Homo sapiens: one gene and its partner. The protein of the gene in region 1 purifies or fractionates together with the protein of each later gene. This does not show direct contact. Each region holds a gene or a part of one and is shown on either strand. Other genes may lie near its edges.

Region 1 (3,500 bases):
TCTCGTGACCTTTTACATATTGGAAATGTAAGACAAAAGAAAAGCACACTTTTTGGTATTAGAAAAATAAACAAACATACCAATAGGGGTTCCAGCAGGCCTAACCTCATTAGGCAATAATTCATCTCCTTCAGGCCAAGTTACTGACAATCTATCAGGGAGCCTGTTATGAAACCAGCATATTAATGTTCCACAAACTTTGTTAATTATGATCTTAATTAAAAAGATACGAGTTATTAGAAACTTAAATATTTATTGCTGATATATTTTAAAAGGTTAAATCTGGAATTCTTTACGATTAATCATCTAAAAATTTTTTTCCTCCCTAACCATTCCTGTGGCTACTGAAAAAAAAGAAGAAGAAAAAAAAAAACCTTTTGGAATTAAAAGCCAGAAACTGTCAAATTTTTGTTGATTTTTTTTTTCTACTTGTTTATAGTACAAATTACCTTTAGAAGACAGGATAACCCCTAAGAATCAAAATTCAGTAAGAATCAAAATGATTGCATCATTAGCTATACAAGAAGAAAAGCCACTTTCTACTTCCTTCTTCTTCTTTATAACTCACTGATAAGGTTTGGCTCTGTGTCCCCATCCGAATCTCATCTCGAATTCTAATCCCCAGGTGTCAAGGGAGGGACCTGGTGGGCGGTGATTGGATCACAGGAATGGTTTCCCCCATGCTGTTCTCTTGATAGTGAGTTCTCACGAGAGCTGATGATTTTTAAAGTGTTTGACAGTTCCCCCTTCCCTCTCTCTCTCTTCTGCCGCCCATGTAAGACATGGCTTGCTTCCCCTTCGCCTTATGCCATGATTATAAGTTTCCTGAGGCCTCCCCAGCCATGCACGACTGAGTCAATTAAACCTCCTTGCTTTATAAATTACCCAGTCTCAGGTAGTATCTTTATAGCAGTGTGAAAACGAACTAATACACTCATCTTTACCTCTCAGCAGGTATTGTAATATCCTAGTTGTAGGCCAAACTGAGTTTTTTTAAAACATGTTAATCATAGTGCCTATAAAAGTGACACTTTAGATATATAAGATTTCCTTCTTTGTCTACAAAACAAATGCAGAATTCTGTTTGTATAACTAGACCTCTTAATTTTTTTCAACAAGAAGTTCATCTCAATAGGTACAATATCTAAGACTACAAATGCCCTAACAGCAGAGTAAATGACATACTCAGAATACTTACAGCACAATTCTTTCCAATTTTTCTTATTTTTGTCATGCATCTTGAAGTGTGACTTACCTTGCCATTTCATCTTCTACATATTTTTTAACAGCTTTCTCAGCAACTGTCCTATCCAGCTTTGCAATTGGCACAGTTCTTACTTCATCATATAGTGCCTGAGGTTCCTGAATAAATACATTTACCAACATTTCAAAGAAAACTATTTAAATCTAGCTGTAATAAAAACAAACACCCATTTGTTTCTTCCAAAGAAATATATTTTATCCTAATTAAGTACATAAATAACAGTAGCTATTCTTACGTTACACCACAATGTTTGTTTATATTTTTTATATAACCTCTGTAGTCCTAACATATCAAACATTAACAAGAAAGCATGGTATAGGGAAAAAACCCACTCCAGTTTTGTAGTTACTCATTGCTGAGATAGAATTCTGGCTCCAATGTTTACTAGTTAGTGGGCCCTAGAGGAAATATGACTTTATAAAATTAATTTGGTAACTAGTTATAATGTATATATGTTTACAAAAACTGAGCATATGATGTTAAATTGTATAGATTATTAAAAACATCAACTTATGACACATAAAAATCCACACAAAAACTACAACCACTTTATCCAATGGAAAACTAGTCACTAGCGAAATATACTGTATCTTAACAATTATGCAAAAGTGTTATCAAGAAACTTTCAGTATGTTTTATCACTTGCTGTCTTACCATTGCAATTTGAACCTCTCCTCCTGTAGCATATACTTCTCCATCATGATCGCCATAAAGAAAAAATCTTACTATGCTTCCATAAAAGAGGGGAAGTGTCTTGATTGTCTTGACCTAATATTTAGTTTTTAAAAAAAAAAAAAGCTTCAGTATTAAGATTTACGAAGAGAAAAAGGCTTAATAATAATTTTACAGAACTTCTTTATTACAAAGAAAAAAACCTTGGTAACTATCATTAGAAAAACTAATGAAAACAGCATTCTAATATTAAAATAAAATTGTATTTTTGAAGTTCTGTACTTAACAAATAGTTGTAAAAATATGGCAGCTTCTTTATACAAATGTGTTAGAATTAAGCATGTGTCTTACAAGTCCAGAATTCCTTCAAATTCAGTCATAATGAATGCCAACATATCTGAAACCTTTTTTCCCCATAAAATTCTGCTCTCAGATGATGAACAGCAATTTATAAACTTTGACAAGTTAATATTATTTTTCAAATACATCAGCTCAAAACTTGCCTATCATATTTCTTCTCCTTACTTGGTTTAAAAAATCTAAGGGAAATTTCCACTACTCCAATTCAGAAATTCCCAACAAGGACTATAAGAGTTTATCCCAACCTACCTTGCCTGCCCCATTTCTAAACTATTTCTCTTCACACATACAATAGGCAGCAGGACAACCCAACTCTTACTACTTGCTGTTTTTCTGCACTTAACCTACGCACATCTCTATGCTCAGATTACCTTCTAGAAAGCACTTTACTCCATTACCACTAAGCATTTGACTAAACTGATCACTCCTTTCTTCTTGTAACTCTTCACTTGGCTCTAGGGATGTCACATTCTGCTAGTTTCCTTCTGTCTCACCAGCTTATCCCTGTCAGTCTCCTCTGCCAGCTCCTCCTTTTCATTCTAACCACTAAATGTTGGGAAAGCTCCAGGCTCAATCCTTTTACCTCTTTAGCTATACTCACCAAGTATAGATGATCTCATCCAATTCTATAGCTTTAAATATATGATGGTATCTCTCATTTATGGAGAGAACAGAGAGCCTTCTACCTTGTAATTATCTGTGTAAACCTGAGCCTCTACCCCTTTCAAGGTCCACACAAATGTTACTTCTTTTCCAAAGTATTTAACGATCTGCTCTGTTCTTCCAGCCCACACGACCAACCAAAGTAAAAAAAAAAAAAAAAAATCCTCTCCTCTTCTCTCCTTCTAACCTGCCAAAACACTATTAATCCTTTCTTTCCATTGCATTGATCCACTTCTTACCTATTATTTATGCTTACACTATCCCCATTGCTAGGATATAATATCACCAAGAGCAAAGCACATCTCCTATATCTCTGAATTCTCCACCACACAGTCAAAAGGTGCAGTAACTTACTATGTCAGCAGATGCTCAACAAAAAAATACTTAAAAATCATTACTTAACGCATTACATTAAAAACAAACAAACAAACAAAAAACACTGAGATCTCCATGTGAGTAAAGTTTAGTTTAGGAAACCATAAAAACCTTGTTAATTGAGCCTCTGGCAATAGTTTTTTTAATGCTATAATAAATTATGGAA
Region 2 (3,500 bases), on another chromosome or scaffold:
CTGCAACCTCCGCCTCCTGGGTTCAAGCTATTCTCCTGCCTCAGCCTCCCTAGTAGCTGGGAGTACAGACATGTGCCACACCCAGCTAATTTTGTATTTTCAGTAGAGATGGTGTTTCACCATGTTGGCCAGGCTGGTTTCGAACTCCTGACCTCAGGTTATCCACCCGCCTCGGCCTCCAAAAGTGCTGGGATTATAGGCGTGAGCCACCGTGCCTGGCCTGGTAGTAATAGTTCTTATAACCAGTCTCTGAATTTTCTAACTCTACTGTAGAGTGTTGAATTTGACAGACCCTAGGGTATTTTTTTAAGATAAATGGTAAAAAATACAAATGACATGATAATGCTGGGTTTTATTCATTTAATCTAAGTAGTAAAAATAATTAATTTTTAAAGGGAATTTGAAAAAGAAAAAGCAGCTGTCATCATTTTAAAGTCCCATTATTGATTTACTAAAAAGTAAGGAACATATACTTCCATTACTGCCAGATATCAATTGGAAATTGTTATATGGGGTATGTATATCACCATCTACATGAGCAATGTCCAATAGAGCATTCTAAAGTGATAGAAATATTCTACATTACACTGTCCACTTAGTAGCCATTGGCTACTAAACACTCAATATTTTTTAATTTTAATTTTAATTAATTTAAATTTAAATAGCCACATTTGGTGATTATCTATTACGTTGAACAGCACAGATCTATGGATACTACATTTGATAAAGTTTTATATCCATAGTCAGTTTAAAATTGTAGATCTTTAAATTCTGTAATGTATAAGGTAATGCCAGATGCTAACTTTTTCCAGATCATTTGGCCTCAGAGATTTCCTTTCTTGAATAAAATACCATTTTCTGCTTCAAAAAGACCATTTCAACAACTTGTACAGAAATAAAAACAAGTGGCAACAATTAAGCTGAATATTTAAGTATTGTCAGACCAGGTTTATTATCTGCATGTACCAGATCTAATGTGGGATTGGGTTCTTCTGTCTCACTCCAGGATTTATTGAGATATTTATAAAGCTGTTGCAGCCTTCTGTTACTAGAGAGGAAAGAAAAAAAACAACTTTAGGTTACCACATACCATTTCTATTCATGCTGTTCATCCATTTATCAAGCTCTTCCATTTCAATTTCCATAACAGAGGGTGTATCTTCCTCAAAAATAGGGCTAGAAATAGAGAGCAAAAGACTTGTTAGAAAGAAATGTGAAAGATGCCTAATTTCATTTGGAAAGAGACTAGAATGCTGATCCTGAGGAAGATGAACTTGATTCAGTGCCTTATGCTCTAGGGAAGCCTGGGGGCTTGCCCTATTCCAAACTACCAAACTTTAATAGGAAGAAAGGCTACCACACAAACAAACATACATTTATCACAGGTCCAAAAGTGGGGTGCCCACAGGCCCAACAAGTGGACAAAAAAGGGAACCCAGGAGGCTGACTGCTCCCCTGAAGGTGCAAAGTCAAGTCTGCAAGGCTCCCAGGGTGAGGCCCTTCCGGGGAGTTGCCATATGAAGCATTTTAGCCTTGCTTAATTTCACTTCCTGTTCCTTGGGGTTTTTTGATCAGTGCCCCAGGTCAAGAGGCCACTGTCAACAGGCTACAGTTATCACCTGTCCCTTCAATTCCCAGGCCTTTCTCTCTTGGAGAAATGGAGCAGTTGCTTTCAGAAATTCACCGCCCTCACTTGCAGAAGCTCAAAGTGCACAGTCAGGGGACAGAGTCCGTGGTTAGTGGAGATGGGGTTGGGGAAGGATGGACCACCAGCTCTGAAAGCAGCGTAGGCGGTACACTGCGTAGAGGAAGCGATAAAGTTTCTAAACCAGGAGGCTGCTTGGAAGATGGGGAGGATATGGCATCACCCCAGAACATGCTTCTGAGTGGAGGCTTGTTTTTCTCTCTCCCACCCCTCCTTCCCTCCCTCCTCTCCCTTCCTCCTGCTCCTCCCACTCTTCCCTTCTCCTCCTCTCTCTCTCCCATCCCTGGGGGTTCTTGCTGTGTGAACTTCTGCTTCGACCAGGGCTCCCTGCTAAATACCAGCTCAAGTATCTTTCCTGGTGATAAAATTTCTAATCAGAGTAAATGAACCAATGTCCTTGAAATACAGCTAGGGATAGAATATTTAACTGCTATGCACTTGAAATTGGTAGCAGTCAGGATTCTTTTCTGAATGTAGGACAATGAAATAAAACAGATGCCAAGCTGTCTTTGCCCAGATCACACTCACACGCTGGATAGGGTTTGGGGATGCCAGCACATCCTCCCTCAGGCTGCCAAGGATCTCCAACCCCGCCTGGGAAGCAGGAGAGTCCCGCAAGATGTCAGAACAAAAACACCTGAAAAGGCAGCTGTCCACCTTAACAGTTGCTGTTCACACCCCAGGTGGATCAGAAGCAGCAGGGAAAACTTACACTTTCACGTTTTCACTTCCCAGTTCATCTAAAAGGAAATGAACATAAAGGTCATGTTAGCTTTGTTCTTCTGTAACAACTTTTAATTTCAACAACAGCTGAAGTCTCCTTTACAAAGAGAGCAAAATGACATTAAGTAACATTTTTAAAGGAGCGATCATTAACTTAGAGTCAAAGAAGTGTGGATTGCCATATTAAAACGAGGTCCTAATCCGTGTGAAATCTGCTTTCTTTTAGATGTGGATGGTCTGCTGAGAACGCTCACTTCAGACCAGATGTTCATCCGTCTTTATTTTTTACATCCACAAGAAGAGGAAAACATTGGTAAGGAAAGGCAAGGGAGGGTGAAACAAGAGGGCTTGCTCCTTGGCCTCCTTCAGTAAAATGTCCCAGATCTAAAGGCTGCTGCTTCATCTCCTGTGATACACCATGCTGAACACTGTGACACTGTGCCTCACTCCTGGTGGAGGATGTGGGATCTTCCATCAAGGGCTCCCCTTGGAATTTTCCTTTTACCCCTGCTCTTGGCATGGCTGGATCCCTCACAACTTCAGGGTCCCAGCTTAAATACTCTTTCCTCGGGGAGGCCTTCCCCACCTACTCTATTTAAAGAAGGGCCCATCTTTCCTGTTGCTCCCCAGCTCAGCACCTTGCTTGCATCTTTCATAATATTGGCCACAATTTCTCATTGGTCAACCCGTCTGTTTGATTTTTTTTTTTCTGTCTGTCTCTCTCACTAGACAAAGTACAAAGGGGCAGGGATCGTGTCTGTCTTATTTATCGTGGTATCCCCTCAGCTCTGAGCCAGCTACCACAGTACCTTGTAAATGCCTAGTCAATATCAGTGGAATAAATGATTAGGTGTTAACCTCAATTGTCCAGCACTGGGGTTCAATTCATGTCCAATATTTCAGACTTAGCATAGTGAAACTTCCAACAAGCCTGTTTTTAGTTCCTGTTGGTTGAGGTGAGAGTCAGGTAACTGTTTACAAAATGGCTGTAATGCACATCAGACTCCAAATGAACAAGTGGTGAGAATTGGAGCCTGATGTCCCAGCTGAAGCCCTGTTTCATTTGGCAGGA

What was found. Proteins that work in one complex are often made in the same cells at the same time.
Region 2: the proteins of SMCHD1 (region 1) and TMEM154 purify together in Homo sapiens (co-immunoprecipitation; one large-scale study listed by IntAct). This does not show direct contact.

Annotation. Positions count from the first base shown.
Region 1 is NC_000018.10:2,704,226-2,707,725, reverse strand, and holds part of SMCHD1 (structural maintenance of chromosomes flexible hinge domain-containing protein 1), read right to left. Parts: intron 2,033-3,500; coding exon 1,919-2,032; intron 1,363-1,918; coding exon 1,256-1,362; intron 164-1,255; coding exon 81-163; intron 1-80. UniProt on the Homo sapiens protein: Non-canonical member of the structural maintenance of chromosomes (SMC) protein family that plays a key role in epigenetic silencing by regulating chromatin architecture.
Region 2 is NC_000004.12:152,641,998-152,645,497, forward strand, and holds part of TMEM154 (transmembrane protein 154 precursor), read right to left. Parts: exon of another isoform or gene 2,683-3,500; intron 2,446-2,682; coding exon 2,418-2,445; intron 1,177-2,417; coding exon 1,091-1,176; intron 1-1,090.